Linked DNA regions of Homo sapiens: region 1 is linked to region 2. Evidence: fine-mapped expression QTL. A gene starts in region 2. The other region holds a variant in brackets. All regions are shown on one strand. Distances are between the middles of the regions. Region 1 holds the start of LOC124901239 (a long non-coding RNA gene). Region 2 holds the start of GMDS-DT (GMDS divergent transcript).

The links.
Region 1: its variant is fine-mapped to the expression of GMDS-DT in spleen (GTEx, PIP above 0.99).

What each region holds. Positions count from the first base shown.
Region 1 is chr6:1,759,660-1,770,236 of GRCh38, reverse strand. The region is part of intron 7 of GMDS (GDP-mannose 4,6-dehydratase); the gene reads left to right. It overlaps LOC124901239 (a long non-coding RNA gene), which reads left to right and starts at 4,626. Exons shown (of 2, transcript XR_007059404.1): 1 at 4,626-10,577. The variant C/T (reference allele first, on the strand shown) is at 5,593.
Region 2 is chr6:2,240,884-2,251,460 of GRCh38, reverse strand. It overlaps GMDS-DT (GMDS divergent transcript), which reads right to left and starts at 5,708. Exons shown (of 7, transcript NR_046229.1): 1 at 5,531-5,708; 2 at 2,535-2,624. GMDS (GDP-mannose 4,6-dehydratase) reads left to right here and starts at 5,856. Exons shown (of 11, transcript NM_001500.4): 1 at 5,856-6,140. The coding sequence starts at 6,039. RefSeq lists a silencer at 5,584-6,213 and an enhancer at 5,714-6,214.

The DNA of each region.
Region 1 (10,577 bases), 480 kb after region 2:
GTAAAAATGTGTTCGTGTGTTGGCTCACACATGTGTGCAGTTCTCAGGGAAGAAGATATCCTCATTTTTCATCAGATTCTCAAAGGAGTCCATGACTCAAGTAAAGTTAATAATAAGTGCTTTTAAAAATTAAACAGAGAACCCCAAAATGTTGTAAGATTTTAGTTAGCATTCATAACAAAAGATATCAATCATTAGAAAGTTACATTTAGGCTGGGTGCGGTGGCTCACACCTGTAATCCCAGCACTCGGGGAGGCCGAGGCGGGTGGTCACTTAGAGTCAGGAGTTTGGGACCAGCCTGGCCAATATGGCAAAACCCCATCTCCTCTAAAAATACAAAAATTAGCCAGGCCTGGTGGTCCACGCCCATAATCCCAGCTACTTGGAAGGCTGAGGCACGAGAATCACTTGAACCTGGGAGGTGGAGGTTGCAGTGAGCAGAGATCACGCATTTTTTGGTTGTGGAGATCACGCCACTGCACTCCAGCCTGGGTGACAGTGCAAGACTCCGTCTCAAAAAAAAAAATAAAAAATAAAAAACATTTAAACTCTGTGTTACCTAAAGGATATCAAAATTTTGTGTCTGTGCTAATTGATGTTGGTTTGTTAGAGCTTTAAACTATTGAGGTCGAAGCTTGGGCTTCAGTCTTCCTCCTGGCCAATTAATAGCCTCGTTAAGTGGCTGAGGATTTCACTGAGTCCTGCCAGTCCCCTTGAAAATGCCCATGAGGGGTTAGCAAAAGGGAAGGCAGGGAATTACAGAATGCCAATCAATTCCATCCCTGTGCTTCCTGGGTTGTTTGTGTTTTCATAGCTTCAGTGTGAATATAACTTGGATTTTAGCTGAGAAGTAGCTTGACACAGGTTAAAGTGTCATTTTCTTTATTTCCTCCAGCTTTGAGAGAATTTGTTACCCCAGTATTGGACATTCCAGAATTCTGTTTACTCACAAGTTAGACTGCATACCTTCTGTTACACTGGTTGCTTCTGGGAGAAGGATCCGCTTCCTCTTTATCTCCGTAAACCCAGTTCTATTAGTGTCAGTTATTGTCGTGAAGCTTGAGTGAAAGTCGATCACACAGAATCACCAAGTCAAAATAAAGGACTTTTCTAGGAACGAATTACATCAGTAGATAACCTAACTTAAATTATAATATACTAGTGAATAATTTTTTATCACTGAGTACTTTTCTCTCTGTAGAATATAGTATAATCAGACAGAGTAAGCTGTTATTTCCTCTCCTGGGCATATTATTCTGTATCTTTTATCTCTTACAATATTGAAGGAATATTAAAAGGAACTCAAAATGAATAAGCACACAAAAAATGAGAAATATAAGCATAACTCTTTTAGTCTGTAAAATGTCAGTAGTTAAATAGGAGTTGTGAAGTGCCAGTTTTTACAAATTATGAATATTCAAAAGATACAAAAACATGTTTAAATCAAAGCAAAATATATAGATTGAGTATTCCTTATCTGAAATGCTTGGGAACAGAAATGTTTTGGGTTTTGGAGTATCTGCATTATACTTACTGGTCGAACATCCCAAATCCAAAAACAGAAATGCTCCAATGAGCATGTCCTTTGGACGTTAAGTCAGCACTCAAAAAGTTCAGATTTTGGAACATTTCAGATTTCAGATTTTTGGATTGGGGTACTCAACCTGTATATTATGTGACAGTGACTAACAAGAAACATTTATTCATGAAGGAATGAGTAAACGTAGTACCTCCTTGGTTGAAGCAGGAGTTCTAAGGTATGTACCCAAGTTTGAATTCTTCAGTATCTTATCTGTCATATATTGGTAGTAGCTGGCAATATTGATCCCTTTTTTGGAGCTGTTCTTCCAATTAAATTTTTAGAAGCAAATGCTGAAATCATCATCCTTGCACTTTTTGAACATATCCTATTGATTATACTGTCGTTCTAAATATTTACAATGTATTCTTTCAAATATTTGTGGATATAATAGAAAGCATGTCTCTATGACATTGTATGCTTTACTGAAGTGACATTAGATATTCCCCTGTTTACACACATTCATATGGTTAATGACTCATGTTACCTATTAAGGTTTCCTGTTTCCTGATTTAAAAGATATTTAAAGGCCTCAGTACTGAAATGTTTATTTTTACCTCTGGATCTTCTGCTTCATATAGTAACATATACAGGCTAAATACCTATTTTAACACCACCAGACCCACTTTTTACCTTTATTATGAAACTAGGGTTTGGTCAGCTGAGGGCAAGCTGTATGCATAACATAGCTGGCAGTATAGTCGGTGAACTGTCACCGAGAAGAGAGTCAAAATGTAAACACTGAGCAATTCTACAGCAGCTTAGAGCCGGGATTAACTGGGATCACCTAGTATTCTGTTTTTAATGAAACTCTCTCCCTTGTATTTTCATGTTTGGGAGAGAGTCCAAAGTTATCTCATGCTAATTTAGTTAGGCAGTGCCCTCCGGGGATGTCACAGGCTTCCCTGACCTCTCCAGAGAGAGATTCAGTGAAGGGATGAGGAGAATTAAACATTCCTGAGAAATTGGAAAGCAACAACCCCCAGAGAATTTGCAGAGAAACTCGCTCCAGACTCGGCTGCCAGAGACTCAAGTCACCTTTTCAGCACTTGCTTAACATCTCTCTCAGTCCCATCTGGCTTGACTCAGAGGTCAGTCTGGGAGACTCGGGAGTGGTGGCAGCTCAGAGAAGAATTCAAGGGAGGGCCACCAATAGCACATTCTGCTCTTGTTGCTTGTTTTTATCTGAAGTACATTTGAAAAGATGGACAGGGCATAAGGTTGAAGTAATAACTTGACTTTGCTTGGCCATCTTTTTTTCCTTTTAACCCAAAATTTACTTTAAGGTGAACTGGTATTTTTATTTCCCAAATAATAAGTTCCTTGATTCTTGATGACTGAAACTTAAGAGTTGTTGTCGTTTCTGTTATACAGGACCTCTGTGACTAATTATTTTGTAATTAGCCATTTTACAAAGGATATTTTCTTTTATGCGTTTAATGAAATTTGGGGGGGTGGTGGGTGGAAAATATGTTTCCGGTTTTAAAATCATATTCCCTTTGTGGTTTACATTTCGTATATGAAGAATTTCAGAAAACTAGGAAAACAAAAGTATTATTAAATATTGAATCTGTATTATAAACAAATCTAAGGAGCTACATTTTATAGTTTGTTCATTTCATTTTCTACTGAACAGAATAAAGTTCAGTGTGCCCTACAGCTGTGGTGTGAGAGGAAGGTTTGGGGATCCCTGCTCGATTTTACACTTAAGTCAGATTCAGCAGGAAATAAAGAACCCTTACCCGGTGCTCCTTTAAGCCAGATTGCTGAGCTGGGAGACCTAGCTGACCAGATCTGGCCCATTGCCAGGCTTTGTTTAGTCCAGTCAGTGTTTCAGCCCACAGCTAACATTTTAGAGTTTGTTGGGTTTTTAAAAAACATAACGCAGTTTTTAGCATGTTCGATGTGCAGCTCCTCCGTGTAAGCAGATCTGGTGAGACTGGTTCAACATCCCCAGGTGGGAACCGTCTGTGGGAAACGGGGCGCTTGCTGGGCCTTCTAGAAGGGGAGAGCCTCTGCAGGCTGCCTGAGGTGAGCTTCCCTGGGCTCCGGAGGCACTGGAGTAGCGAGGCCCACCTTAGACCCTCCTCCCGAGCCATACACAAGAGAGAAATCACTTTTCAAAGTAAGCGACTTTGTTCATTAGAAAGTGAGTTATAGCAGATATATAAATATGATACTCATTTCTTCATTGGTTCCCATTAGGATTCTCAAGATGCTTTTCTCTCTCCGTGGTGGCCTACAAAGAGACCTGGCCCGGGAGACGGAAGGTGTGGGTTCTAACGCAGAGCCTTTCCCCAGCACCTGAAACAGCTCATGCACCGCGTTTCCTGAAGCCCAAATGAATCTGCTGCCTCGAAAGTTCTGTGGTCTTTGCTCCTGTCCAATTTCCAGTGACTCAATGCACATCAGCTTAAATTAGCTAACTTCTCCTTGCTTCTGTGCCACACACAAAAATTAATCATGGCATCAGGTATCTTGATGCACTGAAAGAGTATTACATTTAAACAGACGGGCAGCGAATCCATGAATCATCCTGAGCTTCACATACCCACCCTCCATTTCACATGTGTCGTTTTCATATAGTGCAGCCGCTCTGCCCACTGGGAGAGAGGACGTTTGCAGCTGATTTCTGAAGTAGAGGAGTTAATAAAGGCACCAGGCATGTTTCGAAGGACCCAGGTGAAAGCCTTCTTACATCCTCAGCCCTTTGCTTTAGGGCTGAAGATAGGACAGAGAGAAGAGTCCTGGGCTGAGTCTCGCAAGGGCCTTCTCAAGGCCTTTGCGTTTGTTCTGCTATTTCCTAAACCTTTCTCCACTGTGCCGAAGGAGTTAAAGGGCTCCGAGCCCTAACCCTCCATCGGGGAGTGTCTCGGGCACCAGCGAGAATCTGGCACAGGACATGTTTTCATGGAACTGCTTATCAAAACTAAGCTTCTGCCGTTTCATTTAGACGGGGTAGATTGGGTGGAAAACTGGCCCAGGGACCAGGAAATTTGCCTTCTGTTCCTGCTCAGCCGCCGCGTGACCCTGTTGCAGGTCAGTCCTCCAAGCATGTCTCAGTTTCTCCATCTGTAAAATTAGACAATGAAATGAATGTTATTTATAAGAAACCTGAGGGAAATCCTTCTGATTATCTTCACTGAAACAATGCGAATGAATATTTTTGTGGGGGCTCTGCCTTGCTCTCTTCCTGGGCTCACTCTTGCCTAGCGCCTTCTTATCTGCTCGAGGGGTTTTTCAGACCACAGCCTTCTCAGTGCTTGTTAATGGGTTGTGTTCCCATCTCACCTTCTTGTTAACACCATCCCCAGCTCTAGGAAAAGAGGCGGTGGCCTTGGGAACTCTTTATGCCAAAATAAACAACAAAGTTTGGAAACATTTAGACCAAGATAATTAGGAAAATGGTGTTGAATAAAAGATAGCATTAGAATTGCTACCATGCTTAAGTTAGAATCCGGTTCCAAAAAGCACAATCTCCAGTTAACTGATCTGTTGTAAATTTTTTTTTTCTTTTTGGTTTAGTTTTGTTTTTTAAAAGATTTAAATTGTTTAAATCTTCTGATCACTCCTGTCAGTTAAGGTTTCTTCCTCATTGAGAAGTCACACTGGGGGGAAAAAAATGTGCCCACAGCTGTTTACTATTTAGCAACACTATTAAAGGAACACTATTTAACAATAATTCATGAAGCTCCCTACTCAGAAAAAAAGACAGCTCCTCTGAACTATCTACCTATATAATACAAATTTATTTTCTTGAAATTGCAAAAACCCGCATGTTGAGACAAACATATAAATTGCCAGGATTTTTGTGTTCTTTCAGAACTTAAATATAACCAAACGATTTTGGGCAAGGAATCAGAAATTCTTTAGAACGGAAATGTTGAAACCCCAGATTCAGTTCTAAAACTCATCTTTCAAAAAGAATTCATGCTCTGAAAAATGCAGCGTTTTTATGTTTGGTATGATAACAGCCCCATGGAATTATCACATCATATCTTGACGATCGTTA[C/T]GGAGCGGTGATGATCTCTTAGGCATTAACCCAGGATTTTCTCCAATAATATTATCATTTATAACAGCAATAACATTTTGTAGATCACAGAGTGCTTTTAACATATTATCTGATGGGATACCTAAAACCCTATAACCTGTGTAAGAAAATCAAGGGTGAAATGAGTAAGTTGTCTAAAGTGACAAGCCTATTCCAGACAGGGCCCAGCGTTTTAGGACTTCAGTCCAAGTTCTTTTCACTACATGATATTAAGACTATCCTTTATCATCGAGTATTTTCCTGTAAAAATAATTCATTTGGAAAGATGAAGAAACACATAAAGCCTCCATCTCTTGCCTCTGTGAACCTCTCGGCTCTCACATCCCACACACGGGCCTCCGTTTTGAGTGCATGTTTTCGTATTCACCCTCACAGCACATTCCCAGCTTTAAATAGTTGTCTCCCATCTTGTATGAATGTACATTTGTGATCACAGAAAGGCCTTCTCAGTTACCAGCACTGTTTTTACTGCTGGGAACAAAATCATTTCAAACAAACAGCTTTTTTTTTTCTTCGCTCCTTCACTCTTAACCCCCAGCCTCAGTAGCACTACGAGGAGATGTACCGGACAAGCAGCAGGCAGGCCTACAATGCCCGCTCTGTCTTTCCCCTGCAGACCCTCCAAACTAGCAGGGGTGCCTGCCAAGAGGGGGTGCCTCAGCTCCAGTGGATCGCAGCTTCAGCAAATGGCACTGCTCCCTCCAAGGGAGCCCTCCACCTGTGCCCCCAGTGTGGAGACAGGGAGCACTCTTCACTCTCAGGAGCGGATGTTCACTACTTTCACTAGTGGTCCTAGCAAAGTTTCAAACTGAGCTACTGAGTGGGAGACAGATTCGTACCAATGGAGAAACTGGTTCTTCCGCTTTCTAGATTTCATGCCACCATGATGACTGGGATGTCCCATTGTTCCCCCTGGGCAAACCGGAAATCCATTTTACTGTTAGAAATACTAGATCTTTAAAAAATCTGTTTATTCTGGAGTCAGTCACACACAGGGCAATCTATGTGAAAGAAAAGAGGAAGGAGCAGTTGCATAATTGTCATACCATCCATCATGTTCATTCTCACACTGACCATGGTTTTTAATGTCTGTCCACCTGCAGTCTGTGGCCTCGCCAGACAGTAAGGGCAGCGCCCTGGAAGTGGGGGATTTATCACTTGCCAGTAGGTTTACTCTTGGGGAGACGCTGGGGTTTTATCTCCATGCCCCTGGAGAATTGACTTACTGAATGCTTCCCTTGAAGACCTAAGTCACTGGTTCTTCAGCCCCTTTGCATAGTCCTCTCACTGAAATCAGAACTGAATTTGTTCTTTTTCATTTTTGGTTAAGAAGATGCACATTAGAAGACAGCTCAGAGCAATGGGGCTGACCTAGTGGGAAAAGACACTGGTTTCTTTTCACGTTTCTGGATGGCCCGTGGCCCACATCTGCCAGCATCTTCGCACGTGTCCACAGCACCAGTCAGCCTCACCCACCTTGTCTTTCCCTTTGCGATCTTAGAAAGAATTTGGTAGAAATGGGAACCGAAGATTGAGCAGAAAGTATAATTACCACATGTATTTACCAGCTCATTTTCAAGAGCAGTAAAAGTACACTAAACATTCTGCTTGTACATACACTAGCACTTTAAAACTACCAGCTTTCTAAAACATGGTTTTGATTTTTGGAGCAAACATTCAATTGCTATTCTTTGATATTATTGATTTATAAACAAAATGATCAGCATTCCCTAATGTCTCGAAGCAAAGAAATTAGGGTAACACATTTAAAATTTATCAGTTTGAAACTTTCTAAATACTCTTCCTTAATAATAACCACAATACACTGAAAATGTCAAGTTCTGTAAAAAATGAACAGGGACGCGAATGTGTCGGGCTTCATTTTGAAGACCCAGCGTGTTTCTCATCCTCCCCAGGAAGGGAAGGTTGAAATCATGAAGTTAACATCTGCCTTTTCGTAAACACCACCTCAAAGTGCTCTTTCTCTTAGGTTGGAGGCTGAAAGAAAGAAGCACAAATCTTCCCTGGGCCAAGAGTTTCATCATAAGCCCTGTGTGATCAATAAGTACATTGTGGTGGTTATTTCATAGCTGATTAACTTATATGTCTACAAGCCAACACTTGACTTGAAAGGCTGGTCGGGTTGCTCGCCGTGCGAGCATGGCCTTTACCAGCCTGCCCTGGCAGCCAGCTCTGGGACTGCTCACTCCTGACCACAACCCGGGTACAGCCCTGAAGTTTCGTCGTGAGTAACCCGTCAGCAGGAGCCCATGCCTCTCTGAAAGGGCATTTTGTCTTTTTTGGCAGTACCAAATGGCAGGATAATTAGTGTTAGGGAGGGAAAAAACAGAATTGAAAACCACATCCGATACCTGGTTATGGACTCTTCAACTTTGTGGAGGCAGAAAATGTGGTGGCTTTATTTTTCTTAATAAATGCAGACGGTTATAAGCAATTGAGCATTTAATGATGAGATGATGCTGAAAGGCATAACTTAATAAAAATTGCCTCTGTGTTTCTCACTTCATGGTTGAAACAGACTGTGCTTCTCGGCTTTTTCTGTAATCAGGTTTATATCAGATTGTCCTTTAATTCACGTTAAGATCTTACATCTTAGTACTTCCTCTTAGAGTTTTTGTATTCCTCCTTGCAAAGTCTCTGTTTCATTTTTAGGGAAAGGGTTTCCTATAGTTTTTTTTTCGTCTCCAGTGTTGCTTTTAATTTCACCAATTATGGAGTAAATAAATCATTGTGTACTTGGAAGAAAAATTGGCAGGAGAGCAGAATATGTTAAGGACTCTTGCTTTTCATTGTGAGCGAGATTTCCCAACTGGAGCGTCTCTGTTTTATTTTGCCTCTGGCTAACATCTGAAGATCAGTAATAAAGCTCTATGCAAATACTTTCATGTATTAAAAGAACAATATTTTGACACTCATTGACACAAGCAAAAAAAATACAACATTAAATTAGTGTTCAGGCAAACAATGAAGACATTGTTCATTCACATGAAATGCATGTGAAAAATGCTGTGTTATATTAACAGAAAAGCTTGCTCCTCAGAACTCGACCTTTAGCACTGGCGTAAATGACATTACTTATGGTGCTGTATAGTATTAGACAGGCTTTCTTGTTAACAGTCTTGAGCAGCCGTTGATAACTTGTCAGACTACTGAGAATTTTAGTCACCAAAAAATAAATGTTCATTCTCAGTACCTGATAATTTAAGTTTCTCACAGATTTTTTAAATTATCTTTTGGATATTTTAGAGTTTTCAAATACTCGATAAGTTAAATACTTTAAAAGTGTTAATTCATTGTAGGCTTTTTCTACTTGTTTTTCCAGATTTCATCTAGAATTAAGTAGACTTAATTTTTTAAAAACTCCCTTGATCATCTATAATGTGTTTTTAAAATAATTGAACTTCAAGGTACGCTCTTGATTTTTATTCTGAATCTTGGAGAACACAGGGGGCCTTTTGTTTAATTTTCAGTCATGTGGACAGGCCCTTCCATGGAAGGGGAGGTTTCTCTAGATGACTCTTTGCATGTATGTAGTAGAATTTCTTTCCTCCTTTATCACTACACTCAAATGTTACAGTTACAATCATTGTTTTCTTAAATACAACTGGCTTCCCTTTTCATCTGTGTTGATCCAGGACATTGCAGAGTCAGCATCTGGGAAATCATTATGCCAACAGACCATCCCAGTCCCGGGTGAGGTCAAGTTAGTAAGAGCAATTGGACCACCCGAAAGAACAAAGCTCAGATACTCCTCATAGTGGGACATTCTCAGATTAGCAAACAAAAATTAAAAGAAGAATGATTAAATCTAATTATATTCAGCATGTTTTTCAGAGTACTGAGTGGAAGAGTGACTTTTAACTTGACATCTAGATTTTTGTGAATGAAGACACTGGGGAAACACATTTGAAATGAGTTTTAACCAACAAGTTGCATAGGACACTAGGTTCCCAGTTACAAAGACGGTGCATGTCCCAGCCTGCCATCTTTAGAGGCGCTCAAGGGTGGGCGGTCCTCGGCGGTGGGGACTGCGGGGGCCATGGGTTGATGACACCCTCATGAGGACCCTGAGTACTCCTCCTCCTCTGGTGTACTGGGTTGTCTCCTCTGTGTTCCCACAGCTCCTTTCACACTGGCCCCTCTCCCATCATTTTAGTGGCTGGCTGGGCAAGTGGCCATCTTCCCCACTGGATACTGAGGTCAACAGGTGGTGACTTATCCCCCCTGGAGCTCCCTTCTTACCACTGAATACAGAGCTGATACACAACTGGTCCCATATACTCGTGGTCCAGAAGTCCTATTTGCTCTTTATCCAAACTTGTTTGCTAAAGGAGCAGAAACCAACTCAAAGAAATTCATGGAAAACGGGATTTTTTGTAAGGAGCCTCAGGGCACCTCGCAGGAATGGGAAAGGAGGATCTGCTTTCCTCTGTGTCTGCACATCTCCCTCACTCCCTCCCTCCTCGTGGGCTCCCTTTCCCACTCTGCTGCCCACACAGGTCTTCATGCCTCCCAGTCTCTCCAGCTGGCTCCGCCCCGGTGACAGTCTCACGCCTGGGTGCTCAGCCCTTTCCTGCTGTTTCTGCCTCTGGGTCTCTTACTGCAAATGTCTTTGACATTCCCATTGGCCCAGAATATGTTAGGTCTCCATCCATGGAAACCGAAGGGTGTTGGGGGGTGGGGGGCTGGGGCGCAGTAGGCACAGGGACACATCACCTGGTTTAAATACACCTGGCTTGACTCACTCCTTCATCAAGAGCAGTGTGTGGGGACAGTCTTATTAGGAGGAAGGTTTTAGAAAGGAGCCATACCTGATAGTTCCCTGATAACTACCTGAAGCCTCTGTCCCAAAAGTTATTTCTTAAATCAGATTTGGACTTTTAAAACGCTTTTTCCTATATAAATGTTTAAAGCACGTAGGCCAG
Region 2 (10,577 bases):
TATCCATACACACAACATCTTGGATGATGACTCTCCAGAAAACTTGAATGACAAAAGCACATTTCAAAAGATTATTCATTTATAATGCTTAAAAAAAATTGAGACAAGGTCTTGCTCTGTCACTCAGGCTGGAGTGCAGTGGTGCGATCATGGCTCATTGCAGCCTCAATTTCCTGGGGTCAAATGAGGTCCCAGCATCCCCAGTAGCTGGGACCAGAGGCACGTGCCACCCTGCCTGGCTAGTTTTTATTTTTTGTTGAGCTAAGGTCTCGCTATATTGCTCAGGCTGGTCTCAAACTCCTGGGTTCAAGCAATTCTCCAGACTTTATCTCCCAAAGTGCTGGGATTACAGGCGTGAACCATTCCACTCAGCCTATGATACATTTTGAAATGACAAAATTTTAAAAATAGAGGACAGATTTGTGTTTTCAAAGGATTAGGGATGGGGGTGGGAGGGAGGTGGTGCAGTTATAAAGGGGTAACATGAGGTGTCCTGGTGGTTTTGGAATCTTGATGGCGGTGGTGGATGCATGAATATATACATGCAATAAAACTGTATAGAAGTAGGCCACACATGGTGGCTCATGCCTGTAATCCCAGCCCTGTGGGAGAGGCCAAGGCAGGAGGATTGCTTGAGCCCAAGAGTTCAAGACCAGTCTGGGCAACAAAGTGAGACTCCTGTCTCTACTCAAAATAAATAAATTAAAAAAATAGCTGGGCATGGTGGCTCATACCTGTAATCCCAGCTCTGTGGGTGGCCAAGGAGGGAGGATCAATTGAGCCCAGGAGCTGAAGACCAGCCTTGGCAAAAGTGAGACCTCGTTTCTACTAAAAATAAGCAAATTAGCTGGCCATGGTGGTGTGTACCTGTGGTCCCAGCTATATAGAAGGCTGAGGCAGGAGGACGGCTTGAGCCCAGGAGGTTGAGGCTGCAAGTGAGTCTGGATGACAGAGTGAGACCTTGTCTCAGGCAAAACAAACCAAACCAAACGGTACACAAGTAAATACACATACTCTTGCACAAATGAGTACAAAAACTGAGGAAATCTGAATGAGATTGGTGAATTCTATCAACGCCAATATGCTGCTTGTGCTATTGCTCTATAGTATTTGAAGACATGACCATGTCACTCACTGTATTTCTTAAAAATACATTTGAATCTACAATTATTAGTTGAAAAAAATATTTATGAGACAGAGGAAGAGAACTCGGAGGGCCTTCAGTTGTTGATGTCAGGACATTACCACCATAGCTGAAGGCCAGAATTCAGAAAACCACTCCTGCTGCCATGCTGCTCCCCCAACCCAAGTGGCTCTCATGCCCATGAAAACGGTGACTAGACCCAAACTTGGACTCTAACTGCCGTTAATCCTCATGTCAGTTGGACCAGAAAGCAGAAGGATGGCTTCTGTTTCACTTCCACCTGCCAGATTGAGCAGGAACGCATCTAATTGACAAAGCTCAATTTGCTTCCTATATATGAGATGCAAAATGGTCTGGGACATGTGGCTTTGAGCACTCTAATTTTTCCAAAGAGAGTATGGAATGGGAGTTGAATGAGCATAATATCTACCATAACCAGCCACTAGCTATGTGGCCTTGGGCGAGTTTATTAATGTTTCCAATCCTCAGTTTCTGACTCTATGAAATAAAGATCATTATCATACTGAGTGTGGACAAACTCAAATTGTTTTTCCCCTGCTCTAACAAAACACCAATCAACAGAGAAGACTTCTGTGACCAAGTATGCATGGGATTTCTTCCCACCCACAAGCAGGCAATCAATTCTATAGGGCACACCAGCTGGGTGCCCTTCAATTCCATTCAACTCTGACACTGTCTCCTTGGAGATAGCATCAGATCCCACAGGTCAAGGGCTCAGTCCCCAATACTGTGCCCCCGCCAACTTCTGATGCCAATTGCAAGCCCCAGGTTATTCTACCTGTGCTTCTGACTGGCCAAAAAGTGGGCTTCACGTGACCCCCTTCTTAGGTTTATTAATCTGAAAGAGTGGCTCACGGAACTCAGGGAATCTCTTACTCAGGATTACCAGTTTACTGGTATGACAAAGTATATGACAAAGGATGCAGATGAGGAGATGTACAGGGCAAGGAATAGGAGGAGCTTGGAGCTTTGGTGCCCACCCTGAAGCGTCACCCTCCATGTACCTCCACGTGTTCAACTATCTAGAACTCTCTGCACACAGTCCTTTTTGGGTTTTTATGGAGGCTTCATTATGTCGGCATGATTGATTAAATCGTTGGCCGTTGGTGATCAACTTAACCATCAGCTTCTCTCTCCTCCCTGGAGGTTAGGGGATGGGGCTGAAAGTCCCAGCCCTCTAATCCTGCATTGGTCTTTACAATGACCAGTTTCCACCCTGAAGCCACCTAAGGGCTGCCAGCCAACAGTGAACTCACTCATTACCCTACAAAATACATCGCTTTGGTGATTCTAAGCATTTTAGAAATCATATGCCAGGAAAACAGAAATGAAGACCAAATATAGATTTCACCACAGCAGACGCACTTACCTCCTGGAGTTGGCTGAGATGCAGCACGCTGCCCCACACATCTCACACGCTCCCTCCATCCATGCTGGCCATTAGCATGGTTTGTGCAATCTGAGAAAGAAGATCAGCAAATGTTCCATGTGAAAAGCAAAGGAAAGAAATGTTTAAAAAAGGAGAGGAGAGAGAATTTTAAAGGGAATGCTGGAGAATCGTTCTTGAATAACTGGCATGCACTCAGTGGCAAGAGATGGGAAAGAAAGAAGTGAAAAATGTTATTCCACATATTTAGTCTTGTACAGAATGATTGACTTTTATCCAATTAGAGGACTTGGAGTTGGAGGCCTCACTCTTTTCTCTATATTTTGTATCATATTAAAACAAATATGAAAATGTTATGAAAAGTCATAAAATGATTCAATATCATATCCCTTTCAGATTATAGCCCCTTGAAGATTATTTCTCCTCTACTGCTATACCCTCAGCAGCTAGTATGTTTCTGGAGATTAGCCAAGTTTGTGAGTAAAGGTATCAGCATCAACAATTAGCTACCAAATGTATTTGCTTCTTCTGACATACCATGAAGTCACTGTATAGTATAGCCAGTGTCTGTCAGTTCAACCACCCGCTTGTTAACATCTTTCACTGGCCTCCTGGAGAAGGGTTACTCAGCCTCAGCACTATTGACATTTTGGGCTAGAAAAATCTTTGTTGTGGGAGCTTCCTGTGCACTGCAGATGGTGAGCAAAATACTTAACCTCTACTCATTAGATACCTATAGCACAACTCCATTTGTGACAATCAAAAATGCCTCCAGACATTGTCAAATGTCCCCTGGGGGCAAAATCACCCAGGGATGAGAACTGTGTTAGAGGAAAACACAACTGAGCCATCACCCTTAGAGCTTTCCACTACCGCTGGTCGCTTTACTTCTAGTTAATGTAATCTTCTTATGCTGCCCCAGACCCTGTGCTGACGTTGTTCAAGTTGCCCTAATGCTACTGGGAAAATGACAACAACCTCCACTACCAACCTCCTCCCTCCGAGCCCACAAACAGTTAAAAAAAAGAACCTCTTTTTCCCTCTAGCTGTCAATCATGGGTTGAATTTTGTCCCTCCCCCAATTAATATATTGATGTCTTAACTCTTAGTAGCTCAAAATGTGACTGTATTTGGAAATAAGGTCATTAAAGAGGGTCCTAATCAAATGTAACTGGTGTTCTTATAAGAACAGGAAGTTTGGACACAGACACACATACAGAGAGAACGCCATGTGAACATGAAGACAGCCAGCTACAAGAAAAGGAGAGAGGCCTCAGAAGAAATCAGCCCTTGATCCTAAACTTCCAGTCTCCAGAACTGTGAGGAAATAAATTTCTATCGTTTGTCACCCTATGGATGGTACGTTGCTGTAGCAGACCTACCACCTGTCTTCAGAAAAGTTCTCTAGAGAAATAGCCTTTATTCTTCAAGCTTCCTCTGACCTACCATTTCCCATCATTTTATAAATATTTTCAGGCCCTAATAATGTTGATTTTTTTTCCATTTTTCTTCTACTGTCACACACTTCTAGGGCAGGTGTTTGGTGGTGTGACAGGAAATTGACTGGTGTCAACTTCCAGTGTTTGTGTGATAGGAGGTCTCAAAACTACAGGATAAATGTGTCATATCTCCCATAAGTATCAGTTTTGCTCAGTGATTTTTTTTTTTTTTTTTTGAGATGGAGTTTTGCTCTTCTTGCCCAGGCTGGAACGCAATGGCAAGATCTCGGCTCACTGCAACCTCCTCCTCCCGGGTTCAAGCGATTCTTCTGCCTCAGCCTCCAGAGTAGCTGGGATTACAGGTGCCCACCACCACGCCTGGCTAATTTTTTGTATTTTTAGTAGAGACGGGTTTTCACCGTGTTGGCCAGGCTGGTCTTGAACTCCTGACCTCAGGTGATCCACCTGCCGCAGCTTCCCAAAGTGCTGGGATTACAGGCGTGAGCCACTGCGCCCGGCTTGCTCAGTGATTTTTTTAAGGAAAATGTTAAATAATTGGCTCATGCATTAATTTAAAGCGTATTTACATGAAAATGAGTATAGTTTTAGCATATTCCCGTATATTTCACAGACATTTCTAGCTTATAGCATGTTCCTCTCAATGGAAGTGTTCCCTCTCCTCAGCTTCAGGGTCTCTTCATCACTCAGAGGCACCATCAGATGTTTGTTGAGCCATTCTCCTCATAGAACGCAGAGGAGAGGCCAGGTGTGAAACCAGACCAGTCTATCTATAGCTAAGAAATATTCCTAACGGACCTCGAGGAGCGCGAGAGGGAGGTTTTAAATGTAATCCTGAGCTTTTCTGATTTTGGGGTTCCAGGTCTGCTATACATACTCTTGCACGTTATATTGGGCACAGCCCTAGTAACTCTGTGATTTGAAATGATGATCTGAAGTTATCGATTAGGGAGAGGAATGTGGACAGAGAAGCAGAGCAACGGAGACCGGGAAGTTTCCGTCTGTGTCCTGGATTGCAGCCAACTGCTTAGGCACACACACCTGCTGCCCTCCCGGCTCTGAGTCACCTCCTCTCCTCTCCCTGTCCAACGAGCAGCTGCCAAATGGCAGCCAAATCCAACAGATGTAAGCCGGGACCCCACCTGTGTTTGAATTACTTTCTTTGAAATCTGCCACGTCCAGGTTTATTGACCCGGGCAGTCTTTTCAACATTTCCTTATGCCGCATACGGGTGGGGCTAGGGACTTTCTTGTGCACTGGCAGTCCTCAGAAGAGAAAACTTTGAATTCAGCTATTTGGAACCTCGTTACTGGTTCCGAGCCTCAGGAAAGGCCAGAAGAGCGAGAGCCAGCCTAGTTAGTCACTCCCACATCTGTGACCCCCGTTTACGGGCCTTGTACGCTACTGCCCTTCAGGTACCATAAACCGGGCTTCTCAAAGGGCACTGCAACAGGTTTCCAGGAATTATTTATCAAAGTCCATGACCCCGGCCCTGTGACCCCTGGGTTTGAAAATTCAGACCTTCAGCCTAACGGAGAGGTCGGCTCAGCGTTCCTCCCAGCATCCTCGGGCGATATTAGGGTCCTGGGAGATTCGGGAGGCCACTGCGTCCAGGCCCCCCACGGCCAGCCAGGCGAGAGGCGGGACGCGAAGCCGCGGCCTCCTTCCTCTTCCCTGAGGCGGTGGCGGCGGCAGGCCCCGCCCCTCCCGCGCGGTGGCCGTCGGCGGAGGGGCGGGGCCTGCTACAGCGTCGCCGGCTGACGCGAATGACGCTGCGCCAGTCAGGCCGCAGCCCCGCTGCTTGGCCCGTCGGGCCCGCCTTGGCCGGCTCGGCCCGCCCCCGGCCCTCCCTGCACGGCCTCCCGTGCGCCCCTGTCAGACTGTGGCGGCCGGTCGCGCGGTGCGCTCTCCCTCCCTGCCCGCAGCCTGGAGAGGCGCTTCGTGCTGCACACCCCCGCGTTCCTGCCGGCACCGCGCCTGCCCTCTGCCGCGCTCCGCCCTGCCGCCGACCGCACGCCCGCCGCGGGACATGGCACACGCACCGGCACGCTGCCCCAGCGCCCGGGGCTCCGGGGACGGCGAGATGGGCAAGCCCAGGAACGTGGCGCTCATCACCGGTATCACAGGCCAGGTGAGTGCGGGGGCGGGGGCGCGCCGGCCGAGGCAGCCTGGGCACGCGTGCTCTCCCTACGCGCCGCTACTCGTGGGCTGCGGTCTCTCCAGGAACAGCCCTCTCGGCGTCCCGGAAGGGGTCTGCTGCCGGGAGGTGGGACGGAAGGTACGGTGCAGTTAGTGTGTTGCGTGTGGGGTGTGCGGGATACATCGAGCGCCTCTGGTCTTTCTCTGGGGGCTGTGAGCGTGTGTGCCGCGCGGGATGTCGCGCTCACACCCGGGCAGGACCGCCCGCTCTCACCTGCCCCTCAGGTGACCGCAGCGTCTCTTCCTCCAAGCCCATGTCGTGCTTCGCAGCTCCTAGTGCCGGAAAGGGAAAAGAACCGGTGATCAATGAACTTGCGGGTGAGGTCTTCTTGATGTGTCTCGGCTCAAGGGGCGCTTACCTGCTAACGTTTGGGAAGCAAGAAAAAGGGTGCTTTGCTGGTTTCGTCCCCTATCACCGGATTTCCAGATAGAAAAGAGAACATGAAAGAAAGTAATGCTGTGGAGTCACCTACTAGGACATGTTTAGGAAAAAGAACTTAAAAAACTTTTTAAAATCACGCCAACTTCTGAGATTCAGGTTGACACATTTGGAAGTGTATCCGAGGCACACTGGTCCAAAAGTGCGGCTAGTTCCATTTTCAAAGGAATAAGTTCGTCGAGTAAGGTAATCAAGAGGAGGTCTTCGGAATGTCTCAGGCTAAGCATGGCTGGTTTGTGAGGGTCGCCTCTTAGAGGTGTTGCAGTAGGTGGGATCCGACCGCTGTGTCTTACCAAGCTGTGCTGTTTTAGATTCAGTGGTCATGAAGTAATCGTGCCCACATATTGCTGTAGAAAGAATGTGATGTGTGTGCTCCTGGGTATCTCTGGGTGGTGGCCAATATAACACTGAGATAAAGGTGATAATGGCTAATACATATTGTGTCTATCATGTTCCAGTCGCTTGCCTAACATTAACTCATTTAGTTCTCATAACAAACTCTTTGAGGAGGTACTTTTATTATCTCTATATATGTGGAAACTGAGGCATGGGAGTTTGATTTGCCTGAGGTTAAACCGCTGGGAAGTGTCCAGTTGGTATTGAAACCACTCTCAAAGTTCTCTAGTGTTAGAAAGGGCTAAGTGGGCAGGAGGCAGCGGCTCATACTTGAAATCTCAGCACTTCGGTGTGCAGAGGTGGAAGGATTGCTCGAGGTGAGGCCAGGAGTTTGAGACCAGCCTGGGCAACATATTGAGACGTTGTCTCTACAAAAAAATTTAAAAAATGAGGCAGGCATGTTGGTGCTCACCTGTAGTGCTAGCTACTCAGGAGGCTGAGGCAGGAGGATCACTTGAGTCCGGGAGTCTGAGGCTGCTGCAGTGAGCAATGATGGTACCACTGTACTCCAGCCTGGGGCAAGAGAGTGAGATCCTGCCTCAAAAAAAAAAAAAAAAAAAAAAAAAAAAAAAAAGAAGGAGAAGTTGAAATTGGCCAGATGCACAGTCACAGAATATTACACAATTTCAAGTATTGAATACCTGATTTACTGCTGGTTATTCATGCATCTTGCTTTGCTTAAGGTAATCATAATAGACAAGAGTTTGAAAACTAGTAAGAGGTGGATCTGAGTTTGAAAACTAGTAAGAGGGCAAGGATCTGAGGTTGAGAAATTGAATCCTTGAATTGAGGCAGTAAGACAGGTCAGGGCCTACATACTGTCCTCCCCCTTCTCTTTGTTTTCTAATGCTGGGACCTTTCTGCAGATGATTCCCTTTTTTCCATTTTGTCAGACTGGACCTGAAGCTCAAATGTTTACCAAGTTTACCTAATCTCTGGAAAGTAGAGATTTTATTTTAGTATTGTCCGGAAATTAGTTAAGATTAACATCTTAACTAATGTGCTGTGTTGGTGTGGCCTATACCAATTTACACGACCAGCAGTATGAATCAGTGCAGATTAGAAATGGAACCTAATTTTGACTTTTAAGAGCAGTCATTTGGCTGGAACTGAGTGGCCAGGAAGGTATGGAAGTGGGCCCCCACTCTAGTTTGTCCTGCAGCCTGTCATGGGAGTCTACCTGAAGCACCACACTCAGCAGACCACTCCCTGACTGGAATTTTTTGGTTCCTCATTTCATTTCCAACTTAAAACACCTGCATGGCTTTCAGGTTGGGTTGAATCTCTGCCCCAGTGTTTCTTTCTTCCCTCCGGCATCTGCCCTCTGCATTGTCTCCTCATTTGGTGTTGCATTGGCTTCTGTACCCCTAGCATAGTGCTGAATTCTGTAGCTACCACATAAACACTTGCAGATGGAATTTACTGCTCTTTTATGTTTTTTATTTGTATTCCAGGACAGTGACTCCCAACTTGAGTATCAAGGATCTCTGGAGCACTGTGGTGTTAATGCAAGGGGTCTGAAAATCCATACCTTATTGTATGTTTTCTTAATAATATTGGCTGAGAACTTACTGAGCTATTCACTCTGCTAAGCATTTTGTATATCCCTACCTAAGAGACAGGTATAATAAGTATCCCCATTTATCCCTGGCTAAGTAAGGTTAAATATGTTCCCTGAGGTCGTACATCTAATGAGTGTCAGAACTGAGATCTGAACCCAGATCTCAGCAGTTGCTGTAAGTCATTTTGTTATACAGACTGTGGTGAGCCTTATGAGACAGAGAGAAATAAATAGTCTTACTCTAAGAAGAGATTTCAGATTCAAATGCCACTGCTCTGGCACTTGGGGCTATCATGGCATTTGTGCCAAGATGGGCTCTTAAATGGGTTGTCCCAAATTCCCGCTTGAGAATAGTGCGGACAGCCAGGGTGTCCTGTCTGCTGTGTATCTCTAGTACGTATTGTCAGGCTTCTTATTCTAGCCTTCCCCTCCCATCGGTTCTTGACACACTCCTTTTCCAAAGTGGGAACCTTATTAAATAGGCTTTAAAGAAGCTCAGGCTCTGGCTTTGCATTGCTGTCTCCAGGCCCTCTGCCAGCCACTCTTAAAAGCTCACCCCCATTGGCTAATGATGCTGTTCTTTACTGCACTCTTGGAGATGTTCTTGCTGTTTTTTGAATACTGTTGCCTTGTACCTCTTTGGAGTAATTATTTGTGGCTGAATGGCCTCACAATTCTTATTCCTTTTAAGGTGAGTCTCAGTGTTCTCAGCCTAATCCTGATAAATGCAGCCATTCCAGGAACTTCCTCTGTATTTACATGTATGCAGTCCCTGTTGATTGTATAAGTAATTTCATATCTTTTGTCTTGAGATTATGAACTACTTTAAGATAGAAATCTCATTTTCAGCCTGTTACCTCCCACATGCCTTCATCTAGTGGGGTTTCAAAACTGTTGACTTACTTTTTCCATTAGCAGAACACATCTTCACTGCATGTCTGCAGTGTCCAAGGCTTGTTTTGGTGCTGCTGCAGATATAAAGATATGAAAGTTGTCTTCATCTGTTTGTGTTGCTATAAAGGAATACCTGAGGCTGGGTAATTTATAAAGAAAAGAGGTTTATTTGGTTCATGGTTCTGAAGGCTGTACAAGAAGCATGGCACCAGCATCTGCTTCTGCTGAAAGCTTTAGGCTTCCACTCATGGAGCTAGTGTATGCAGAGATTACATGGTGAGAGAGGAAGCAAGAGGTGGGGTGGGGTGTGGGGTGCCAGGCTCTTTTTAACAACCGGCTCTAGCGGGAGCTAATAGAGTGAGGAGTCACTCATTACTGTGAGGATGGCACCAAGCATTCATGAGGGATCTGCTTCCATGACCAAAACACCTCCTATTAGTTCCCACCTCCAACCTTGGGGATTAAATTTCAGTGTGAGATTTGGAGGGGTCAAAGATCCAAACCATGGCATTCCATCCCTGACCCCCCAGATCTCATCCTTCTCACATGCAAAATACAATCATCTTTCTCATGCAAAATACAATTCCAATAGTCCCTAAAATTCTTAACTTGTTCCAGCACCAACTTAACGGTTCAAAGTCTGAGACTCAAAGCAAGTTCCTTCTAGCTATGAGCCTGTAAAACCAAAAACGAATAATTTTTTTCCAAGATACAATGGTTGTACGGTCATTGGGTAGACATTCTGTGACTGCAGCAGCCAGGATGTCGGAGCAGCATGTAGGACGTTCCAGGACTCCTTGAGGTGTGCCAGGCCAGCTGTGCCCCGGGCCTGTCTCCCCAAACCATGCTGTCCTCCTAGGTCTCTGGGCCTCTGATGGGAGAGACAGCCTCAAAGATGTCTGAGATGCCTTCAGGGTCTTTTCCCATTGTTCTGACTATTAGCACCTGGCTCCCTTTTATCCATGCCAACCTCTTTAGCAGGTGATTGCTCCCCAGCACCATTGGCTTTCTTTACTGAAAAATGCTGTTTTCTTTCACTATCACATGACCAGGTTGTAGATTTGAAAAATTTTTCTGAT